Linked DNA regions of Homo sapiens. The protein of the gene in region 1 purifies or fractionates together with the protein of each later gene. This does not show direct contact. Each region holds a gene or a part of one and is shown on either strand. Other genes may lie near its edges. The genes, in order: ADAP2 and KCTD10.

Region 1 (7,306 bases):
CTGGGATTACAGGTGTGAACCACTGTGCCCAGCCAATTATTTAATTTTCAAAGGAATTGTGTTCTATGCCCTGAAGATCTTGAGTGGGGACCTTGAGGCTGTTACTGGGAATGTGGTTGAGGGCTTTCTTCCAGCCCTGCTGCAGCTTGGCTTGGCTGGACAAACACAGTGACCTGAGAACAGGGCTAGATGTTTCTTCTTGGTGGGACCCTGGGAGCTTTATTTACAAAGGACATTCTGTCCCACAGCCCAAATTGCTCCCTCACTCCAGCATCTGCTGTATTGACTGAGCCCTTTAGAGAGGCTGCTTTGACCCATCCTGTCCCTCAAACTCTGGGTCACAGTGCTCAGTGTCCACCTTGGTCATGACAGCCTTTGGCATGGTCCTCTTCACTTAGAAGTAGCTTCTGGGTCCTGAGCACAGAAGCTGAGCTCAATTTTCATAATGTCCAGTATCCAGGAGTGGGCTACAGAGTTTTGTTTTATTTTTGAGACAGAGTCTTGCTTTGTTGCCCAGGCTGGAGGGCAGTGGCGTGATTGTGGCTCACTGCAACCGCTGCCTGCTGGACCCAAGCGATCGTTCCACCTCAGCCTACTGAGTAGCTGGGACTACAGGCATGTGCCACCATAGCCAGCTAATTTTGGTAATTTTTGTAGAGACAGGGTTTCACCGTGTTGCCCAGACCGGGGCTACAGTTTCTGTTTAGGTTGATGCAAAAGTTTTGGAAATAAATAGTGGAGGAAATATAGGGTACAGACTTTCAATTATAAGAAGAATTCTGGGGATCTAAGGTGCAGTATGGATGGGGATGGATGTGTTCATTAATGCGATTGTGGGAATCATTACACAATGTGCACATATGTCAAATCATGTACACATTGAATATATACAATCTTTCTTTGTCAATTAAATATTTGTTAAAATAGTGGGGATAATTGCACAACATTGTGAATATAATTGAATGCAATCGATGACATAGTATTGTACACTTAGAAATGATTAAGATGGGTGGGGCATGGTGGCTCATGCCTGTAATCACAAAGCTTTGGGAGACTGAGGCTGGAGGATTGTTTGAAGCCAGAAGTTGGAGTCCAGCTTGGGCAACAAAGCAAGCCTCTGTCTCTGTGAAAATAGAAAAATAAAAAAATTAGCCAGGTTTGGTAGTACGTTCCCATAGTCCCAGCTACTCAGGAGGCTGAAGCAGGAGGATCACTTGAGCCCAGGCATTCAAGGCTGCAGTGAGCTCTGATTGTACCACTGCACTCAAGCCTGAGTGACAAAGTGACCCCCTTGTCTCTAAAGAAAAAAATGGTTAAAATGGCAAATTTTGTGTTTAGATTTTATCACAATTTTTTAATTTATATATATTTTTCTTTTTTTTTTTTTTTTTTGTTTTTTTTTTGGAGCAACCTTATTAACCGAACCACAATTTAAGTAAAAAAAGAAAAAAAAAAGTCCAGAATGCACTAAAGGGAGGTTTCATGAAATCACCTGGGACTGACTGAGCCACAGTAGGAGATCTGGATTTAGGCCCTGTTCCGCTTCTTATTTGGCTCCATGACCTTGGGTAACTTAAATCCTCTGAGGCTCAGCTTTCTCTTCTGTAAAGTGGCCTGATGTGATGCTGCCCTCTGAGGGTGTCATGAAGCTAAAATATGATCAAATGTGTGACGCTCTTGTAAAAAAAACACTCAGTAATTGTTCATTAGCATTGTCCTACAACCACCACCACCAAAAAAAAAAAAAAAAAAAAAAAAAGAAAGAAACAAAGAAAAGAAAAAAGAAGGGAAAAGAAAAGAAAGCATTATAAACAAAATACCAGAGTACATTGTTTTGCTCTGAGGATGCCTGAAATGCCACATTAAGGCTGTTTGATGGGAACCTCCAGAAATAAGGAAGGGAAGAGGGGAAACTAAAGGAATCTCTCAATCTCTGGCTCCTCACTATGAATGAGATACTGTATGTTCTCTTGGATTGGCTATTTTTTTTCTTTTTCTTTTTCTTTTTTTTTTTAATTTTTTTTTTTTTTTTTTGAGACAGAGTCTCACTCTGTCGCCCAGGCTGGAGTGCAGTGGTGCGATCTCGGCTTACTGCAAACTCCGCCTCCTGGGTTCATGCCATTCTCCTGCCTCAGCCTCCCAAGTAACTGGGACTACAGGCGCCCACCACCACACCCAGCCATTTTTTTGTATTTTTAGTAGAGACGGGGTTTCACCGTGTTATCCAGGATGGTCTCGATCTCCTGACCTCGTGATCCGCCCCCCTCGGCCTCCCAAAGTGCTGGGATTACAGGCGTGAGCCACTGCGCCCGGCTTTTTTTAAAGTTTCTGAGATTCAACCAGAGCCTACTTAGAACTGGGTTGGCTTTTGTGGGACCTACAGGGAGGTGGCAGTGAGACCTAAGGTGTCAGAGAAGCAAAGGAGCACAGACTGGTGAAGGCTCGGGTGCCGAGGAAGCACCCCCAGCATCACAATTTTGTCCCAGTGTTGGGCAGAGGAGAAATGTCCTTAGCTTGTCTCCTCTTCTCCCTCTCTCCCTCTTTCCTTTGCCTTCATACCTTAAGTTGACTTTCCCATCTTTCTCCTGGGAGATTTATTTCTGTCCCTTTTTTCATCTAAAGCAACGGAAATGAATCATCTTTCAGCCGGTTTAATAAACAGCCCCATGCCCCCTGACCCCAGCTGACTCTCTCACTGGTTCCTCTGTGGCTGCTCCTGGGCTAGGCCTCACCCCCTCACAGGCAAGACCCCCTCATGGCTGGCTATTCTTGGTAATACTCTCCACCCTCCCTTCCTGCTCAGTCCTGGCAGCTTGACCTCCTCCACCCCAGGGATGACGGGAATCACACACAGCATTCCAAGCGACAATTCCACAAGCTGACCATAGGGGCAGGGGAAGCAAGGAGGCCACCATGTTTGGAGGGTTTCTTTGTGCCATTTCAATGACCCTATTAGTGGATCTTACGCTCTCCATTTAACAGTTGAGGGTTTGGAGGCTCAGAGAAGTGAAGGAACTTGCCCAGAGACAAACAGTTGGGAAATGTGGAAATGAAGGAGTCAACATTTAAAGCCTGAATTTCTGGATTCCTGAATTCATTCCATTACACCATATTGCTGTGCGTGTGTGTGCACGTGTGTGCTTGCGCCCGCATGTATGTTGAATGGGAGTGTGGGCAGGTCAGCTAGAACATCAGCTGCAATTCACCAGGATGGAAACCTGATTTTATCCTGAAGGTTAACACCTGTCTATCATATGCATATGGCTTAATGCATCTGTGTGCATTAAGGTATTAACCTACATAGAAGATGGCAAGTATGTACAGTATATATTTCACCAGGAGGCCCATGAGTCATTGCAGATGATGTCAAGGAGTAACGAAGATGATGTCAAGCAGTAACAAAGATGGGAGAGAGGGAAAGAGGAAATGAAATGCCCACATTTAAGACCACCTATACCCTGCCTTCACCTCGCGGTGATGGAACTTCACAGGTTAAAGTGCCTGGCTGTGTCCACCTTGGTGAAACCACACTTTTCTGGTGAACAAAATCATGCAACTATTAGTTGGACTTCTAAAAATGTGCAGGTATCATTTATAGGAGCAATATGGAATACAGACATAAAACTGCTGACGTCAAACTCCCTGGTGTGGACATGTGTATGTGTCTGCGGTCAGAGAGTGGAATTAACACAAGTATATAAATAACCGTGATGCAAGGTAGATAGAAAGTGCTCAGGTCCAAAACAAATAGACAGATACTACAAGAGTATTCTTGGAGACCCAGAGGCTGGAAAGATTACTCCAGGCAGGGTATCACAGAGGGCTTCCTGAGGAGGTGGCATTTGCATATAAATACGTCTCCAAATAGATGTAAGATCTTACATTAACAGAACGCTTTAACAGAAGTTAGATTCTGGTTAATTTTCCAAGAAGCGCTGAGATGCAGACATATGCCCTTGTTCCTCTTTCATAGACGCGGAAACTGAGACCCACAGAGGTTGAATAGGTTGTCCACAGTCTCGTAGCTACCAAGTGACAGGCCACGATTTGATCTCAGGCCAGTGTGTTAAACTCCAATTTGCGTGCTCCTGTCCCTCCCCGCGCGTCGGCGGAGCTCGGGGCCGGACTGGACCTGCCGAGGGAGGGGCGGACAGTCCTGACGGTGCGGGGCGGGGCTGGCGGCTGCCCAGGCCTGGCTGAGGCGCCGCGGCCGGGTCCCTCTCCACCTGCCGGGCGGAGCGCACGGGCCATGGGCTGAGCCCCGCTGAGCCCGCCGGGCCGGCCATGGGCGATCGCGAGCGCAACAAGAAGCGGCTGCTGGAGCTGCTGCGGGCGCCGGACACAGGCAACGCGCACTGCGCCGACTGCGGGGCGGCAGGTAAGGGCGCGGCGGCGCGGGCAGCGCGAGACCCCCGGCCGGACCCCAGGCCCACCCGACTCCTCCCCTCGGCCCCACCGGGTCCCGCCCTCGGCCCCCTGGACCCAGACGTGGCACCTGCGGGCCCCGACCCCTCCCACCCACACCGTGAACCTCTCACCCGAGCCCCGAGGGCCGTCTCCACCACACCCTGCCCCGGCCCCTACGAGCCCAGGCTCTGCTCCCCTCGCGGGACCAGATGCGCATCTTCCCACGTGCTTGGACCCGGACACGAGAGCCGGCAGCCTAGAGCCCTTCCAGTCCCGCTCTCTTCCCTGGCCAGGCACCCGACCGCCCGAGTCCGGGCTCTCGATGTCTGCGCACCCAGGCGCGCCCCACGCCCTCGGACTCAGACATCCCAGCCAGGGCTAAACGTCGGGCCCAGGCCGCCGACAGTCCTGTGCCCCCTGCCCGCTCCCAGACGCCCCCCGAAGGCCTCCCCAGCGCCCCACCTCGGGGACGCCGAGGGCCCCCTAACTCAGCCTCCCCACCTGCAGCTCCGCGCCGAGCCCCGCGGTGCGCCCCCCGCGCCCTCCTCTCGGTTCCTTCTGAGTCCCTTCACTTCCACGTCGCGCAGCCTCAGACTCTCTCCCCGGGCCCTGAACTGCCTCCAGGATCTTCACCCCGGTCGCCGCGCAGCGGCCGGTGGGCTAACCAGAAGGTGCCAGGCTGGCCGCTTAGTTCGCCTTAGGTGGGAGAAGGGGCGCCCCACCTGCCCCAGTGCCCCGAGCCCAGCCCTGGTTTCTTCACCGCGCTTTCCGCTCAGCTCCTCTCCTGCCTCATCCCCTGCAGATCCCGACTGGGCCTCTTACAAGCTGGGGATCTTCATCTGTCTCAACTGCTGCGGCGTCCACCGTAACTTCCCTGACATCAGCAGAGTTAAATCTGTGCGACTTGACTTCTGGGACGACAGTATTGTGGAGGTAGAAAGGCATGCCCGTGGAGAGCCATGGAACTGCGGGACTGGAGTAGAGGCAGCGGGCAGGGGGCTCCCATTCTACAGAGGGGGAAACTGAGAACCAGAGAGGGGCAAGTCTAGCTAGAGGAAACACAGCTTATAAGATGGCAGCTTAGACAGAGGCCGAGAGTTCAAATTCTGGCTCTATCATTTGCTTACTTTTTTTTTTTTTTTTTTGAGACGGAGTCTCGCTGTGTTGTCCAGGCTGGAGTGCAGTGGAGCAATCTTGGCTCACTGCAACCGCTGCCTCCCGGGTTCAAGTAATTCTCCTGCCTCAGCTTCTCAAGCAGCTGGGATTACAGGCGCCTGCCACCACACCCGGCTAATTTTTTTGTACTTAGTAGAGACGGGGTTTCACCATGTTGGTCACGCTGGTCTCGAACTCCTGACCTCAGGCGATCCACCACCTCAGCCTCCCAAAGTGCTGGGATTACAGGCCTGAACCATCCTGAACCGCTCCTGGCCATCATTTGCTTACCTATAAGCTGGGAGGCCCTGAGCTAGGTACTTTGACCTAGCTGTGGACCCTCAGTTTCCACATCTGTATTCAAGGGATACCACCACCATTTCTCTTTTTTTCTTTCTTCCTTTTTTTTTTTTTTTTTTTTTTTTGAGACGGAGTTTCACTCTTGTCGCCCAGGCTGGAGTGCAACGGCCAATCTCGGCTCACTGCAACCTCTGCCTCTTGGGTTCAAGCAATTCTCCTGCCTCAGCCTCCTGAGTAGCTGGGATTACAGGCACCCACCACCATGCCCCGCTAATTTTTGTATTAATTTTTAGCAGAGACGGGGTTTTGCCATGTTGGTCAGTCTGGTCTCGAACTCCTGACCTTGGGTAATCCACCCTCCTCGGCCTCCCAAAGTGCTGGGATTACAGGCGTGGGCCACTGTGCCTGGCCACTACCACCAATGTCACAGCACTGTTGTGAAGATGATTGTAGGCTCAGTCCAGACACAAAGAAAGCTGTCAGTTAACAGTTGCTGTTGTACGGGTGTGGTGGCTCACACCTATAATCCCAGCACTTTGGGGGGCTGAGGCTGGTGGATTGCTTGAGCCCAGAAGTTCAAGAGCAGCCTGGGCAACATGGTGAAACCCCGTCTTTACAAAAAATACAAAAATTAGCTGGGTGTGATGGCATGCGCCTGTCGTCCCAGATACTTCGGGGGCTGGGGTGGGAAGATCACCTGAGCCTGTGAGAGTGTGGCTGCAATGAGCTGAGATCGCACCACTGCACTCCAGCCAGGGTGAGAGTGAGACCCTACCTCAAAAAAAAAAAAAAAGTTGCTGTTATCATTAGTGAAGTCTTGGACTGGGGGAAGGGAAATAACCTGATTTGTGGTCTAAAGTCCTCCTTTCCCCCTAGGCAGAAAGAGGACCACTTTGCTCTCCTGCCCTCTGGGGGTGGAGGATACCCTCAGCCTGCATGGTAATTCCATTTTGGTCAGAAAACCTCCAGAGAGCAGGCAGTTCTGCACTGTGCGGGTTGGCTGAGGGTTTCCAGGACTATTGGGGAAGCAGGCTGACATTTACTGAATGCCTACTCTGTGCCAGGTACTGTGCTAGACAGCACCGGACTGGAGGCTTTAGTGTGACCTTACTAAGTGCTGGGTCTTGGGAGAGAACAATGAACAAGATAAGGTCCCTGGCCATACAGAGCTTACATTCTAGTGTGGGAGAAAGGCTGGAAACCAGTAAACCAGCACATAAACCTGAAGGATTTTATTTGCACCTTATAACTCCCATGTTATATTTTCTTTTTTGTTTTTTTTGTTTTTTTTTTTTTTGAGACGGAGTTTCACTCTTGTTGCCCAGGCTGGAGTGCAATGATGCGATCTTGGCTCACTGCAACCTCTGCCTCTGGGGTTCAAGCGATTCTTGTGCCTCAGCCTTCTGAGTAACTAGGATTACAGGCATGCACCACCATGCTCGGC
Region 2 (5,282 bases), on another chromosome or scaffold:
GGCAACATAGCAACACCCCTGTCTCTACCAAAAATTTTTTAAAAAATAGCTGGGCATGGTGGTGTGTGCCTGTAGTCTAAACTACTTGGGAGGCTGAGGTGGGAGAATCATTTAAGCCCAGTAGTTCAAGACCAGCCTGGGCAACATAGCAACACACTCATCTCTACAAAAAGTTAGTTGGGCATGGTGATGCATGCCTATAGTCTCAACTACTTGGGGAGGCTGAGGTGGGAGAATCATTTGAGCCTAGGCGTTCAAGGCTGCAGTGAGCTATGATTGTGCCACTGCACTCCAGCCTGGGTGACAGAGCAACACTCCCTCTCAAAACAAAAAAGAGAAAAGAAAGAGGCCCTTGGACTCCCGTCCTGGCTCTGCCCCTAACCAGCTTCACAAACACAAGAACACGCCACTCCTGAACCTGGTCTGTGAATCAAGAAACAGTTGGGATCAGACCATGTGGTCTCTAAATCCCCTTGCTCCTTATTAAGCTCTAAAAATGAGAAGTCTTAAAATTTTAAAGCTTAATTAGCCAGATCCCATATCTTTTAAAAAAAAAGGAAAGAAAACCAGGATTTCCTCCCAGCCTCTCTGCCTGTTAGACTCTGTTGGCCTCCCTGGCCACTAGAGACCTTCTGGAGGTCTTCTGTCCTGGTGCCATTTCAGGGTTTCAGGCTGCATCAGTGCTGGCAGCAGCAAACAGTAAACTCACTGTTGGGCATTACTCCAAATTCTGTTGTTTCCCCCATCTGCCTGCCATGATTTACTTCTGAGTCCACAGTTAGCTGCTGTGTGCATCCCATTCTGGCTTTGTAGTGTCAGTGAGGAAGACGGGGTAGAGTGTGCCTGCTCCATTTTTCCCAGAACCTCCGAATTCCACCCTGAAAGTGGAGTCTAGTCTGATCAAATGTGTGGGACCTGCTTATGTGGCCCTCTTCCTGTTCATCACACCTTAACCCTGAAGGGCAATGAGCAAACACAATGATTTGCCAAACAGCAGAAGGGCTCATGCCCATTTCGTGGGAGTCCCCAGCTGGACCCTGTACAAAAAACTGCTTTAGAGACTGCTTTAAGGTGTGGAAGGACTTCTGTGCAAGGTTGCAGCTCTGTTAGGAGAAGCATATTAGCACTGACCTAAATGGCCATCCAAGTATGGTTAATTGCATTGTCGTATTTATAATTCCTTGATACAGAATGATCTCTAGGTTAAGTTAGGCACAAGAGGAAGACATGTACAACTCTGTGTGGTGGGCCACCTTGTGTGTTTTTTGAAGTGTGTGAATAAATATGTGTATTACACATATTTACATGCACAGAATCTTTGAGAGGGTAAAATGATGAGAAACTGTACCTTTAAGAAGGGAAACTAGGGGCAGGGAGACCTGTTTCTCTGCATCCCCTTGATTTTCTGTGCATTTAGCACCACATGTAAGTGTTGCCATTGAAAATATCAGTTTATTTAAAAATAATACTGGTGGCCTTCAGCAGAATCCCAGGGGCCTGATTTAGCCTGGCGGCCCTGCTTAAAGTCCAGGTGTTGGCAGAGGGGGTGGGCCATAACTTACCTGCCCTGTATACTGTGGGAACACAGGTGGAGTTTCCCGAAGCCCGGATTTATGAGGAGACCCTGAACATTTTGCTGTATGAGGCCCAGGATGGCCGGGGACCTGACAATGCGCTCCTGGAGGCCACAGGCGGGGCGGCGGGGCGCTCCCACCACCTGGACGAGGACGAGGAGCGGGAGCGGATCGAGCGCGTGCGGAGGATCCACATCAAGCGCCCTGATGACCGGGCCCACCTCCACCAGTGAGCAGGCAAGAGACCGAGCCGCCCTCCTCTCACCGCCCCCACTCCCTGCCGTGCTACACCCAGATCCTGTGCAGGCTGCCGGGCCCCTTCTGCTTCCCTTGGAGCCTGGAGATACTTTTGTAACAAGCCAGATGATTATTTTGGTATTGCTTGACAAGGCAAATTGATTGTCTTGACCCAGGCGTATGACCCCTGTCGTTGAACAAGCTGTGTCTAAGATCTCTACTTTTCATGAGAATCTGAGACTCTTTGGAGCCAGGCTTTCTCGGTTCTCAGAGGAAAAGTATGAATGAGTGTGAAGTGTATGTGAGAACTTTTGTTTGCAATATTTATTTTTGTGGGTGTCGACTTCCTATGTGGGCTTTTTGGGTGACACTCCCTTAAGGGTTCAGTTTGACAATTCTGAGAGTTGTCCTGCAGTTGGAGGCCACCAGAGGTATCTGAGCTCCCTGCTTCCTATTTCATAATCCTCCAGCCCCAGCAGGTCCACTCCTGGTTCCTGTGTGTTTGGCCCGGGCACAATCCCCACTGCTTTGCTAGACGTGCTTTCTGCCATGTGGCTTTGGGCCTAGAGCTTGTTGATAATTGCAGCTTGTGGCAGTGGAAATATGGCTGAATGAGCGTCTAAATCGTTGAGACCAGTGCAACTTTGGGTGCAAGGCTTTGTTTAGGGATCAAGCCTTTTGCCACCTTGGGCTGGTCTTTGGCCTGGTGCTCACTGGGACCCCATATGTCTGCGTAGGAGCAGAACTTTCCATGGCAGTAAGTGTCCAGCTCTGTTTCTGGTTCTTTCCCCAACTCCAGCCCCGTCCAGTTGTTCTCCTGATTGACCCGACTCCACTCCAGGAAGGCCATCTGACCCTGTGACAGGCATAGCTCATAAACTACCCCTCCCTGGGATCCCGCTCCTCTTCAGCCTCCTTCCCCATGAAGCTGGGCTAACTTTCTAAGTCATTTTGCTTAGAAATTCAGTGTGGCCCATACCCTTTGTCCTCCCAGCCTGGCATCCAGGCAGGGACACCCTCACACCACCAGCCCCAGGGAGCTTCCCTGCTATAAACACAGACCCCCTTGTCTTTGCCTCTGATTTTTACACAGTGTAGAGTGGCCAGCAGTGAACAGGTTGAGGATGTGCGGGTAGATAGATAACTTTGGGTCTGGTTTGTGTCTGTGTTCATGTTTGTTTAAGGGATATGTGTGACTGTGGGTGGGGACGTGTGCTTGTGGGGCACAGGTGGCGGCCCCTGCTGGAGCCCGGCTGGGCGCAGCGCCTATGTAGGACGGGTGTTCTCAGTGACCTACCTCCCAGGCTCCTCTGCACCTGCAAAGGAACAGGAGTGAGTCGTGACTGACAGGGGTGGTTGAGACTAGACTAGGTAGAGTAGTTACCAGGAGATGTGAATGTGCGTCAGGTGATGGATGGGTTTGTCAAGGGAATCGTTACCGTTTTATACCAAAGGTATTAACATGGGCAGCCTTTGACACATGTATTCCAAAAACGAGTTTATATTTTCAAACGGTTTTTACAGCTTAGACTTTGTACTTACTGCCCTGCCTGTGACAGTTGTATGCCTTCATTTTGTATCCAACAGCAAAGTCTACAATAAAACTTTAAAACAATCATGACTGAATGTCAAAATCGTGTATTGGGCAGATGCTTTTTAAACTGTCGTGTGAGAAACTTTTATATTAGGCCATTTGGATTTTATTAAGTGCTAAGGAAAGAGGGCTTACAAAATGTTTCGTAAATATTTTATACTGTTTAAGTGTTAAACACCAACCCTGTCTTTCTTTTGGGTTGAGCTTTTTTAGAAAGTCGAAGTGAATGTTGGCCAGGAAAATGGAAAAGCCATTGTATAAATTTTTTTTTGAGGCGGAGTCTTGCTCTATTGGCCAGGCTGGAGTGTAGTGGCACCATCTCCACTTACCACAACTTGTGCCTCCTGGGTTCAAGCGATTCTGCTGCCTCAGCCTCCCGAGTAGCTGGGATTGCAGGTACCCATCAGCCCATGCCCAGCTAATTTTGTATTTTTAGTAGAGATGGGGTTTCACCATGTTGGCCAGGCTGGTCTTGAACTCCTGACCCTGTGATCCGACCACCTTGGCCTCCCAAAGTGCTGGGATTACAGGTGTGAGTCACCACACCTGGCTGCATAGTGTTTTAAATGTTTGTGTGAAGAATGAGTTTGTGGAACAATTTGATTTGCTGTGGCCTCTATGCCTAATGAGCTAGTGTTTCTGGCAGCTCTCTCTACCCAACTTTGCACTTGTAGTTTTGAGTCTTTGTCTCTCTGGAATATGAACAGGTTTATAAAACATTCCATGGTGAACAATTCTGTCGGCTGCATTATAGCCATGAGTGAATAGACAGCATTGGCTGGTCCAAGCTCTGTTATTGAGTATACAAGGAACTGATTTTTCTTATGTTAGCACTAAGGGCAAAAACCAATATTTATAATGTAAGCACTATCCAGGTAAAACACTGGCCCAAGATTTGGTAAAGAGATTTCATTGCAATGTAATAACTACAGTTTTTTACAAATTGGAACAGCTTTGGTGTGTCGTAATCAAGGGTTTTTTTTGTTTGTTTGTTTCAAATAAGCCATCTGATTGTGGTGACTGGGGCCCATGTCCAAGACAATTCCTGGCATATTCTGTCACCCTCCCGTGGGGCGATCACTGTGTGGGGACCCCATTCCCCAGTTAAAGTGTGTCTCTGTACCTTACAACAGCGATTCAGGACCCAAGTGTGAACAACACTCAGCCCGCCCTCTGGAGCGTGTGCTGTCTTTAGGGCCCTACCCAAAGTCACTGTAACAGTTAAGTGTGTCATTAACCTTTCTGTCTCTTTGCGCCATAAAAAAATGCTCAAAGTTTTAGATGTAGCCACTGTATGTTGTACAAACGTTGGCGACATGTAAAATAAAAGTCATAAAATGCTTCTGTTTTCTGGCTCTTTTCAGGCATGCCCGGCATAACCAGGCCCCTAAAATCGGTTTACAACAAAGGCAGGGCCCCCACGTTCTGCCTCAGCCCCTTAAAGTCGCTCCAGGTGGAAGGGAAAAGACAGTCATGTTTCTGTAGTGTTTGTTTGAATTCAAACACCAAAAGGAAGTCTTGGGGTCAAAGGCTGCCTGGCTCATGAAAAAGTGAATCAGCTGGTGTTACCACTGATTTGCTATTATGGGGCAGAGGGCTTCAGTTCACCAAACCCAATCCCTTGACACATGTGAGTTCCATTTATTTAAAGCAAAATTCAAATTTCACAGCTTTAGGAAATTTCCTTTACTTAGTCTCAGACCATGCACAGTAAGTCATCGATAGGTTCTTGGAAGCTGAGACTTGAAGCAAAACCATGAGGCTAATGGATGTAAACAAGAGTTAAATTCCTACAGCATGTTGCTGGGCACAAAAACATCACCCAATTTCTAAATAAAGACCAAAGCACTTCTCATATTAAACTGTGAAATACATGA

What was found.
Region 2: the proteins of ADAP2 (region 1) and KCTD10 purify together in Homo sapiens (affinity purification with mass spectrometry; 3 studies listed by BioGRID and IntAct, with this or other methods). This does not show direct contact.

What each region holds. Positions count from the first base shown.
Region 1 is NC_000017.11:30,917,731-30,925,036, forward strand, and holds the start of ADAP2 (arf-GAP with dual PH domain-containing protein 2), read left to right. Parts: upstream 1-4,214; 5' UTR 4,215-4,284; coding exon 4,285-4,378; intron 4,379-5,209; coding exon 5,210-5,340; intron 5,341-7,306. UniProt on the Homo sapiens protein: GTPase-activating protein for the ADP ribosylation factor family. Binds phosphatidylinositol 3,4,5-trisphosphate (PtdInsP3) and inositol 1,3,4,5-tetrakisphosphate (InsP4). Possesses a stoichiometry of two binding sites for InsP4 with identical affinity.
Region 2 is NC_000012.12:109,448,120-109,453,401, reverse strand, and holds the end of KCTD10 (BTB/POZ domain-containing adapter for CUL3-mediated RhoA degradation protein 3), read left to right. Parts: exon of another isoform or gene 1-1,588; coding exon 1,589-1,807; 3' UTR 1,808-4,747; downstream 4,748-5,282. UniProt on the Homo sapiens protein: Substrate-specific adapter of a BCR (BTB-CUL3-RBX1) E3 ubiquitin-protein ligase complex. The BCR(BACURD3) E3 ubiquitin ligase complex mediates the ubiquitination of target proteins, leading to their degradation by the proteasome.